Linked DNA regions of Homo sapiens. The protein of the gene in region 2 purifies or fractionates together with the protein of the main gene of each other region. This does not show direct contact. Each region holds a gene or a part of one and is shown on either strand. Other genes may lie near its edges.

Region 1 (3,727 bases), on a different chromosome or scaffold from region 2:
CAGAGCAAGAATCCATCTCAAAAAAAAGAAAAAAAAGAAAAAGAAAAAAATTAGCTGGGCATGGTAGTGCATGCCTGTGATACTCAGGAGGCTGAGGTGGGAGAATCACTTGATCCCGGGAGGCAGAGGTTCTAGTGAGCTGAGATCACGCCACTGCACTTCAGCTTGGGTGACAGAGAGAAACTCTGTCTCAATAAATAAATAAATAAATAAAACACTTTCATTCAACAACTATTTGCTGAGTCCCTACTATGTGCTAGACATCACCAAGTACACAGGATACAGATCTCTGTAGATTCACTGCTGTCTATATGAATGGCTGTTAGCTGAATTGTGCAGTACAATCTGTATAGCACAGCAGCCCTGTAAGACCACTGTAAACTAGCAGGGCCGAAACTGCAGGCTCCACAAGGATCTTAAGGAGTTCACAAATTCCCATGCATATCAAGTACACTCTGTACACAATAATATCTTGATATTTTTAATGCATAATAGATGTTAGACTTAACAGAGTATCATTTTAAAATATTACTGAATTCCTACTGGACCTGCTTTTTGCTTTTTCTCCCCCACAATTAATATGTTCTGAAAGTATGTTACTGTCCTGTCTCTCAAGGTTTTCAGTGTTAAAAAGGTATCTTCACAGGGTCTATTGTCTCAGACAATAGGGAGGAATTTAAAACTTCTGAGTAGGAAGACCAAGGCAGGCAGATCACTTGAGGTCAGGAGTTCGAGACCAGCCTAGCCAACATAGTGAAACCCCATCTCTTCTAAAAAATACAAAAATTAGCCGGGCATGGCAGTGGGCGCCTGTAGTTCCAGCTATTCAGAAGGCTGAGGCAGGAGAATCACTTGAACTCGGGAGGCGGAGGCTGCAGTGAGCCGAGATCGCGCCACTGCACTCCAGTCTGGGTGGCAGAGAGAGACTCTGTCTCAAAATAAAAAAAATTCTGAGTAGGAAGAGTGGCACGCCTCCAGTCTTTTCTCATTCCACCCTTGCCTAGTTACTATACAATTTCTTTTTCTTTCATTTATGAGCCTGAAAAATCTTAATCACAATTACTTAGTGTGAGAATAATACTTGTAGCATTAAGTTTGTCAAAGAAATACTTAAGTGCTGAAGACATATTGTTCTTCAAAGTGCTTTAGAAAAGTGATTTGGGCCGGGCACGGTGGCTCATGCCTGTAATCCCAGCACTCTGGGAGGCCGAGGCAGGCGGATCACCAGAGGTTGGGAGTTCGATACCAGCCTGACCAACATGGAGAAACCCCTCTCTACTAAAAATACAAAATTAGCCAGGCATGGTGGCACATGCCTGTAATCCCAGCTACTAGGGAGGCTAAGGCAGGAGAACCGCTTGAACCTGGGAGGCGGAGGCTGCGGTGAGCCGAGATCGCGCCATTGCACTCCAGCCTGGGCAACGAGAGAAACTCCGTCTCAAAAAAAAAAAAAGTGATTTGGACCGGGCGCAGTGGCTCATACCTGTAATCCCAAAACTTTGGGAAGCCAAGGCGGGCGGATCACCTGAGGTCAGGAGTTCAAGACAAGCCTGACCAACATGGAGAAACCCTGTCTCTACCAAAAATACAAAAATTAGCTGAGCACGGTGGCACATGCCTGTAATCCCAGCTACTCGGGGGGCTGAGGCAGGAAAATCGTTTGAACCCGGGAGGTGGACGTTGTGTTGAGCCCAGATTGCACCATTGCACTCCAACCTGGGCAACAAGAGCGAAACTCCATCTCAAAATAAAAGAAAAAGAAAAAGAAAATTGGTCAGAGAGTGTGTACAATTTTGTGGTTCTTGAACTCATACTGCCAAATCACTTTTTTTTTTTTTGGAGCCAGAGTTTCACTCTTGTTGCCCAGGCTGGAGTGCAATGGCGCGATCTCGGCTCACTGCAACCTCCGCCTCCCAGGTTCAAGTGGTTCTCCTGCCTCAGCCTTCTGAGTAGCTGGTATCACAGGCATGCGCTACCACACCCAGCTAATTTTTTATTTTTTATTTTTTTTTGAGATGGCAACAGATTGAGACTCTTTAAAAAAAAAAACCTTTTATTCCATTGTTAATAATGACTATTTCTACCGCTTATTAAATATACTTTAAGAGCTAGTTTTAGGACCTATGAAAAAAGCAGTGTTTTAGCCAGCATTTCCCAATTCATCTACAGGCTCACATCATTACATTCAATATTGATGTCTGCCGGGCTCATGGCTTGACATCCCAGCACTTTGATGGGCTGAGGCAGTAGGATCACTTGAGCCCAGGAGTTTGAGACCAGCCTGGCAACATAATCTAGACCCTACCTCTACAAAAATAAAAAAAATTAGCTGGGCATGCTGGCATATGCCTGTGGTCCCAGCAACTCAGGAGGATGAAGCAAGAGATCATCTAAGCCCAGGAGTTCATGGTTATAGTGAGCTATGATTACGCCCCTGCACTCCAGCCTGGGCCACAGAGCAAGACCCTGTCACTATGAAAAAACAAAACAAAAAAAAATTATGTCTATTTCAATTTGTATATTTTTGAATATTTAATAATTATCTAAAATTTTCTCCTTTATAAAAATAGAATAGTTTGAGAGTATCCAACAATTTATCTACTGAATGTGTGTCAATTAGTGGGAATTAGGAGAATGGCTCATGATAAAGTCATTGCATTGTTATAACTTAATCTGAACACTGAATGCAGTAGCTTTTCTTTGTATAACAAACTGTTAAAGACAAGAAATATAAGTACATTGATGATGAAATACAAGAATGAGTACATTTATCTGATCATGATTCTTAAATGATACATCAAGATATCTCTGATTGATTGATTGATTGATCTTACAGTGTCTTGCTCTGTTGCCCAGCCTGGAGTGCAGTGGTGTGAACCCTGCTCACTGCAGCTTCAACCTCCTAGGCTCAAGCAATCCTCCCACCTCAGCATCCTGTGTAGCTGAGACCCCAGATGTGCGCTAATTTTTTCATTCTGTGTAGAGATAGGGTCTCACTATCTTGTCCAGGCTGGTCTCGAACTCCTGGGCTCAAGCAATCCACCCACCTTTGTCTCCCAAAGTGTTGGGATTATAGATGTGGATTACAGGCGTGAGCCACCATGCCCAGCCTCACAAAAACTATACAAAAAATATACTCTTGGAAATCATTAAGCATGACCTCTAGAACAAACACATTTAATAAAAAAGAATAAAAACTAACATTCTATTTAAGAGATATTACTATTATTTTGAAATCAGGGAACCTATAAAAGGTTTGATATACAAATTTTACCACAGAGTAAAATCTGATAAAACTTTCTCAGTAACTTAAGATAATTTTACGTACAGAAATTCAATGCAAGATACTCTGAAAATGACTAGAATGATGATCCTACAGAGAACTAGCTGAGGCTTGTTTGTAAATTTTACTGAAATAGGAAATAATTCTGTCTTTGTATACAATTGCTTCCACGCATGAGCTTTATCTAAGGAAAATAACCTCCTATGTTGGGTTAATAATTTTTTTTTTTTGAGATGGAGTTTCACTCTTTTTGCCCAGGCTGGAGTGCAATGGCTCGATCTCAGCTTACTGCAACCTCCGCGCCCCCCGGGTTCAAGTGATTCTCCTGCCTCAGCCTCCGGAGTAGCTGGGATTACAGGCACCCGCCACCACGCTCGGCTAATTTTTGTATTTTTAGTAGAGACAGGGTTTCACCACATTGGCCAGGGTGGCCTTTTTTTTTTG
Region 2 (3,827 bases):
GAGACAGGGTCTCACTCTGTCACCCAGGCTGGAGTGCAGTGGCAAGATCTCAGCTCACTGCAGTCTTGACCTCCTGAGCTCAATCAGTTCTCCCACCTCAGCCTCTGGAGTAGCTGGGACTGCAGGCATGTACCACCACACCCATCTATGTTGTAAACTTTTTTTTTTTTTGAGACTGAGTCTCGCTCTGTCACCCTAGTGATTAAACTAGTTAACTCTCTTTCTGAGTATCAAAAAACCAATCTGATCATTGGCTTGTACTCTTCTTATGAGAATATGTTAAATATAATTATAATTAGGTTCAGGACTATAACTTCTGAGAAACGTCTATTTACATAGCAAATGAACAAATATTGTGCCTGTTACATGCCAATAGAACTTTAAGCTAGAAGTATTATGTTCATGTCCTTTTTGTTTTTTAATTCATGACCACCAGTAAATCCCTGGACATTCCCACCCACCACCTGGTGGTGGCATTTGCTAAAGGGAATAATTGCCACCTCCCTCAGAGGGTTGCAGTGAAAATTAAAAGAGATAATAGATGTGAAAGTGCTTTATAATCTTTCAAGTGCCAAACACACATAAGGGATTATTATAGTAGGAAATGGTGTCTTCCAAAGAGTAATCATTTAGACAATGTTATAAACGTAATAAATTATTGGTTTCCATATTCAAACCATGACAAGTTCTTGTAGCCACGATGAGACGGAAAACTAATAATTTAGTATTTTTAGTTGATGTGTTTTTTTGTTTTGTTTGTTTTGTTTTGTTTTTGGGGTTTTTGTTTTGTTTTGTTTTGCTTTTGAGACAGGGTCTTGCTCTGTCACCCAGGCTTGAATGTAGTGGCATGATCTCGGCTCACTGCGACCTCCGCCTCCCGGGTTCAAGCGATTCTCCTGCCTTAGCGTCCCGAGTAGCTGGGATTACAGGCCCGCGCCACCACTCCCGGCTAATTTTTTGTATTTTTAGTAGAAACGGGGTTTCACCATGTTGCCCAGGCTGCTCTCCAACTCCTGACCTCAAGTGATCCGCCTGCCTCGGCCTCCCAAAGTGCTGGGATTATAAACGTGAGCCACTGTGCCCGGCCGCTGATGTGGAAATATTAATTTCACATCCCATAGAGGAATATACAGTGTTTTTGATATTTTAAAGTCGTTTTAACAGTGAGCTGTCTAGAAATTCAACCATTGTCTGCAGATTTTCTTACGATTCTGAGCATCACCCAGTGCGCTAATGGAAGGCTGAGGCTACCCCTTCGCTCTTCTCATTTTTAAGAAACTTCCAGCTATCCTTCCCTCTCCTAGGAAAGCTAACGGAATGCAGGAGATAAAATGGTTTCAGATTACATCCAGCGTGATAAACTGTGTCCTTGTCTTAATCTCGTCCAATTCCCAAAACATTTCCAGCTTGCTGTGAGGAGTTACATTCAGTGGTACAGAATGAGCCAGGCAGGCGACGGCGACTTGTAGGTTCCCCATCCCTTTTCTGAGATGCCGCGGTCAGCTCTAGAGACCTCAGGGATAGCAACAGAGCTGGAGATGGGTTAGGGGAGGATGGTGAGGACTACAAAGGTCTCCCCACCTCCCGGGGGCCGCGGAGGCGGGGCTGGATGAAGGTCGACGTGCCTCCTCCGGGCGGGGCGCTGCCAGGCTCTCAGCCTCTCTGTGGAAGGGCAGCCTGCGCCTGGGTACCGAGGCTGCTGCGCGGCGGACAGCGGGCGCGATGTATCTCCGCAGGGCGGTCTCCAAGACTCTGGCGCTGCCGCTGAGGGCGCCCCCCAACCCCGCGCCGCTCGGAAAGGACGGTGAGTAAGGAGGTCTAGCCCGGAGAGGAGGACGGGCGCCTCGGGTGCAGATTTCGCCCGCGCCAGGGAACCGGCCGGCACCCAGTTGGCCAAACCCGACCCAGAGCAGCAGAAGCCTGGATTGGAGGTCGAGGAGACTGGGGGAGACTCCCGGGAAGACGTCCCGAAGCTCCTGCAGACTTTGGAAGTAGGGAACTTTTCCAGGGTGCCTCAGAGTCCAGATTATCTGGGTTCGCATCCTGATCTTGGACAAATGGCTTAACCTGTTTCCTCATCTATAAAATGAGGGCGATGATGGTTTTCCTTTTTAATGAGTTAATGTATGGTTAAAAGCACTTAAAAACGTGCCTGGCTGACAAAGTCGCAGCTTACCACTTTTATTGTTAGAGGCACCATTCGCTCTCCAATCTCCTGAGGAAGCAGAGGAACGGTGGGAAGGTGGACGCCGATCAGCGAGCGGGCCCGGCAAGCGCTGGGAGGCAGTGAGGCAGGGCCCGCTCAGTGGACGCTGGGCGAATGTTCGTGGGGTAAATAAACCTAACCCTTGGCAGGGTCTCAGCAGCCTGAACCCCGCGAGCGCCTGGCTCTGAGATCCACAACCCCCAAAAAGGAAGCGGCCTTCGGGACACTTTCCTTTGAGGTTGCACGTCGTCCTGCAACTGCTTGGCTCTGTAGTCCAAATATCGACACCTTTGGTTCTGAGGATACGCGAGAAAAAGCAGAATACTCAGCAATTAACTAAAGGGGGAGTTGCAGTGTGAACTGGAGGCTTATTAAATAAAAACGGACATATAGGAAAGCGCTTCGTATAGTGCTGGGAACATAGTAGGTGCTTAATAGGTGTGAGCAAGGAAGATTGTTTTTCTTCTGGGACCAGGCTTGCGCTCCAGGGCGGTTCTGCCCCAGCCGCTTTTCCCTAGTCCCCATCCGTCACCCCTCTCTCTTCCACTCACGACTGGGGGACGGCTCTTAGACAATATCGTGAAGGGTTCTTAATGCTCTCTTCACTTAGCCTCACTTTCTGAGCCTTCCGAGATAATTTTACCCCAGAGGGTGGATTCCAGCAGGAGAGAAAGATGTGCGCGGAGAATTCCATGGGCCGATTTTTTTTTCACGTTGATTAGGCCTCTGTTGGTGGTGGTGGGAGGGAAGGACGGAGGTCTAACTAACTCGCTTTATTTTTCTTGTAAAATGCTGGTGGAAGGAAGTTATCCCTCAAGTATCAGAAATAAGACATCTTCGTTTTCCTAGATCTTTATTGCCTTTATTTTTCTAGATCTTTATACCAAATGATATAGAGCTTTTAAATATATATATACACTGATGAAGTAGGGAGAAGCCATTTATTTTAAACTTCGGAAGATAACGGGACTGTTCTGTTGAGAACGGGGAGAAAGATTAGTCCTCTGACCGTGGCCTTTCGTTTTATCTGTCTGCGTTCCCCACCGACATCATGCGCGCGTGCACGCACACACAAACACACACACACACACGCGCACCTTTTTTTTGTAGCTGCAGAAATTCCAAATAATTTTCTTCCCAATTTGCGGCAAAATAGAAGTAGTTTAAAAATTTTAAATACGTATCTAGCAATGCTGCTTGTAAAGGTACTGGTCTTTCTCTGATTTTCATCTAACTATTTTTGCAGCACTTAAAATGTATTTAAGAACTATTATTGATTGGAAACAAATTTGTCTTCAGTCGTGGACATTACTTAACCTTTTGTTCATACTTTCTACTTTGATGAAAAATAATTTTTTTCAGTTTTATTGAAGGAAAAATTTTTAACTGTGTCTCATCACATTTTGTTCTCTCCTTTTTGCTTTTAAAAGGGTAATTTTATTTTTTTGAGACAGAGTTTCACTCTTGTTGCTCAGGCTGGAGTGCAATGGCGTGATCTCGGCTCACCACAACCTCCGCCTCCCGGATCCAAGTGATTCTCCTGCCTCAGCCTCCGGAGTAGCTGGGATTACAGGCACGGGCCACCACACCCAGCTAATTTTGCATTTTTAGTAGAGATGGG
Region 3 (3,500 bases), on a different chromosome or scaffold from region 2:
GTTCTTTTTTGTTTTGTTTTGTTTTTTGAGACAGAGTCTGGCTCTGTCGGCCAGGCCCGTGTTGGCACGATCTCAGCTCACTGCAACCTCCGTCTCCTGGGATCAAGCAATTCTCCTGCCTCAGCCTTCCGAGTAGCTGGGATTACAGGCGTGTGCCACCACGCCCGGCTAATTTTTGTATTTTTAATACAGATGGGGTTTCACCATGTTGGCCAGGCAGGTCTTGAACTCCTGACCTCAGGTAATCCACCTGCCTCGACCTCCCAAAGTGCTGGGATTACAGGCATGAGCCACCACACCCAGCCCTATTCTTATTTGTTACTTGGTTTTAGGATCAGGGTATGGGACTGCATCTTTCCAAATATCAACTTATTAAAAAAAAATCTTCTCAGCTGGACATGGTGGCTCACGCCTGTAATTTCAGCACTTTGGGAGGCTGAGGTGGGCGGACTGCCTGAGGTCAGGAGTTCGAGACCAGTCTGGCCAACATGGTGAAACTCTGTCTCTACTAAAAATACAAAAAAGTTAGCCTGACGTGGTGGTGTGCACCAGTAATCTCAGCTACTTGGGAGGCTAAGGCAGGGGAATTGCTTAAACCAGGGAGGTGGAGGTTGCAGTGAGCCGAGATTGCACCACCGCACTCCAGCCTGGGTGACAGAGTGAGAATCCGTCACACACACACAAAAAAATCTTCTCAAGGACAGGCATGGTGGCTCACACCTGTAATCCCAGCACTTTGGGAGGCTGAGGCAGGTGGATCACTTGAGGCCAGGAGTTGGATACCAGCCTGGCCAAAATGGCGCAACCCAGTCTCTACTGAAAATATAAAAATTAGCAGGGCATGGTGGCGCAGGCCTGTAATCCCAGCTACACCAGAGGCTGAGGCAAAGAATTGCTTGAACCGGGGAGGTAGAGGTTTCAGTGAGCTGAGATCACGCCACTGCACTCCAGCCTGGGTGACAGAGGAAGACTCTGTCTCAAAAAAAAAAAAAAGTATTCTAGTTGACTTGATAATTATGACTTTGAGCCAGGGACCGATTATGCAACAATATAACACAATTAGTTTAATATATGAATTTAATCCAATCTGTGAAAAGCATTTTTCTTTTCCTAAAGGGCCATTATATTATAGCGAATAATGTCTATCTCTTGGAAAGGAGCTTTCTTCTGTAGACTGTCTTATCTAAGTCTGGCTCTTTTGATAAACATCCACAAATGGCCAAACATTTAAAAAGTATAGAGTTCAACAGTCTGTCTGATTAAGCAATACCAACTTGACATTACTGATCTCCATTCAATAATTTCAAGTCAATAGGGATTGCCTCATGTGCACTGCTCGGGTCAGGGAGAGAAATGGGGGAGGGCGGATTCTTGTTCTTTGACAGGGTAAACTGGATAATCTTGAAACCTATACTTTGGGAGCAAAATATGTGGTTCTAAATTATCTCTCCTCCTCTTTCTCAAGTTTCCCCAAAAGAACTTGAGAATTCTCTTCATGTTCCTGAAAAAAACTGTGTTAAGGAGGAGAGGAGCAGGAATCAGAAGATGGTTCCAATTCCTTCTCTGGTCCAATTTCCTTGCGATCAAATGATCTTTGAGGTTGTTCCATTGTCTTTTTGAACCATTGTTCCTTCCCTAGTAAAATGGAGTGAAAATCATTTTACTGACTTGCTTACTTAACAAATTTTTGTGGGGCTCAAAAGAGATGGTGTGGATGCCAGTCTCTAAATGAGCAAACTGCAGCTCATCTAGAACCTCACCTGCAATAAACACCAGCCCCTTACAAGAGCCCCAAAGCCTCAGCTGGAGAGACAACTGTTTACACAGAATACAGCTTGCTTTCTTCCTCTAATTGGCTGCCTGAGTTCTAACCTATGTTTTAAATTTGTTTTAAGACACAGATTGTATTTGGTCACATGAAAATGCCTTAAATAGGCAATCTATAATTAGCTCTGGCTGAGTCTCATCTCCCAAAGTCACTACTGTTGTCGTCATCTTTTTTCTTTCTTCTTTAATGAACTCTTCCCTTTTTTTGTCCCAGAACAAGCTTCTCGCTTACATGCCCTTTACAAAGAAAATTTCCCTGGCTGGCTGCCAACGGTTTCTCTGCCCACTTCCATTTTAAGCAATTTTTATGAGTGTCCCATCTCTTCTCAAACAAAGGCAGATGGCAAAACTTGCTGGTTTACTTTTAAAGAAAACTTGACCCAGACTGTTATAAGCTAAGAAGAGGCTTTGTGAAGTCACATGGCCTGGGTTTACCCATCACCCCCTGATAAGCACTCACAGCTGATTCCCGTGCAAACCCCAGCATCTCACACTGGTTTCATATGGGCCATAGGAAGCACCTTCCAAAGTTTGATGTGTTCTTCAACATCTATTCCCATGGCAGATGACCCATTTTGACCCAAAGGGCCCCACAGTTCTCTTTCGGCTCCTGCTAGTTCTGCAAAGCCTCAGCACTGCTTTTTCTGTAGGCAGTTAATACTAATGCTAATTCAACAGGAAGTGGTATGGGGGTACAAGAGGCAGGATGTCTTCCTGTTGCCCAGTTATTTACAAAAAGGCAGATCTTCTCTCCAAGACTTCAAACGTTCCCCACAGGACTAACTTGTGCTCCTTTACAGGTAATGAGCTAATAAATTATTTCTGATCTCAAAGCTGTATAACAACTGAATTTGTTCAAAAGCCAAAAAAGTAGTAGAAATACAGTCTATACTGCCTGGTGCAGTTGCTCGCGCCTGTAATCCCTGAACTTTGGGAGGCCGAGGTGGGTAGATCACTTGAGGTCAAGAGTTCGAGACCAGCCTGGCCAACATGGTGAAATCCCTTGTCTCCTAATAGTACAAAAATTAGCCGGGCCATGGTGGCGGGCGCCTGTAATCCCAGCTACTCAGGAAGCTGAGGCAGGAGAACTGCTTGAACCCAGGAGGCAGAGGTTTCAGTGAAATCACACCATCGCACTCCAGCCTGGGCGACAGAGCGGACTGCTTCTCAAAAAAAAATAAAATAGATAAATAGGCCAGGCGCGGTAGCTCACGCCTGTAATCCCAGTGCTTTGGGGGGCCAAGGCGGGCAGATCATCTGAGGTCAGGAGTTTGAGACCAGCCTGGCCAACATGGTGAAACCCCATTTCTACTAAAAATACAAAAAAAAAAAAAAAATTAGCAGGGCGTGGTGGTGCGTGCCTGTAGTCCCAGGGAGGCTGAGCCAGGAGAATCACTTGAACCCAGGAGGCAAAGGTTGCAGTGAGCTGAGATCATTCCATTGCACTCCTGCTTGGGCAACAAAAGTGCAACTCCATCTCAGAAAAGTAATAATAATAATAGATAAATAAATGAAATACACTCTATACTAAACCCACACACCAAAAGAATAAAGAAATGCTTCCTATCATAGAACTTAGATCTGTCATGGAGTCAAAGATTTTAGAGTCAAAGTGACCCCAAGGGGCTAGGCTCTCTTTGGTTAATAAAAGTTTTCTTTCAAAACCAGAAAGA

Evidence for each region.
Region 1: the proteins of MGARP (region 2) and ZYG11B purify together in Homo sapiens (co-immunoprecipitation; 2 studies listed by BioGRID and IntAct, with this or other methods). This does not show direct contact.
Region 3: the proteins of MGARP (region 2) and SLC25A25 purify together in Homo sapiens (co-immunoprecipitation; 2 studies listed by BioGRID and IntAct, with this or other methods). This does not show direct contact.

The regions. Positions count from the first base shown.
Region 1 is NC_000001.11:52,732,763-52,736,489, reverse strand, and holds part of ZYG11B (protein zyg-11 homolog B), read right to left. Parts: intron 1-3,727. UniProt on the Homo sapiens protein: Serves as substrate adapter subunit in the E3 ubiquitin ligase complex ZYG11B-CUL2-Elongin BC. Acts to target substrates bearing N-terminal degrons for proteasomal degradation with the first four residues of substrates being the key recognition elements.
Region 2 is NC_000004.12:139,278,054-139,281,880, reverse strand, and holds the start of MGARP (protein MGARP), read left to right. Parts: upstream 1-1,655; 5' UTR 1,656-1,722; coding exon 1,723-1,804; intron 1,805-3,827. UniProt on the Homo sapiens protein: Plays a role in the trafficking of mitochondria along microtubules. Regulates the kinesin-mediated axonal transport of mitochondria to nerve terminals along microtubules during hypoxia.
Region 3 is NC_000009.12:128,071,232-128,074,731, reverse strand, and holds part of SLC25A25 (mitochondrial adenyl nucleotide antiporter SLC25A25), read right to left. Parts: intron 1-3,500. UniProt on the Homo sapiens protein: Electroneutral antiporter that most probably mediates the transport of adenyl nucleotides through the inner mitochondrial membrane.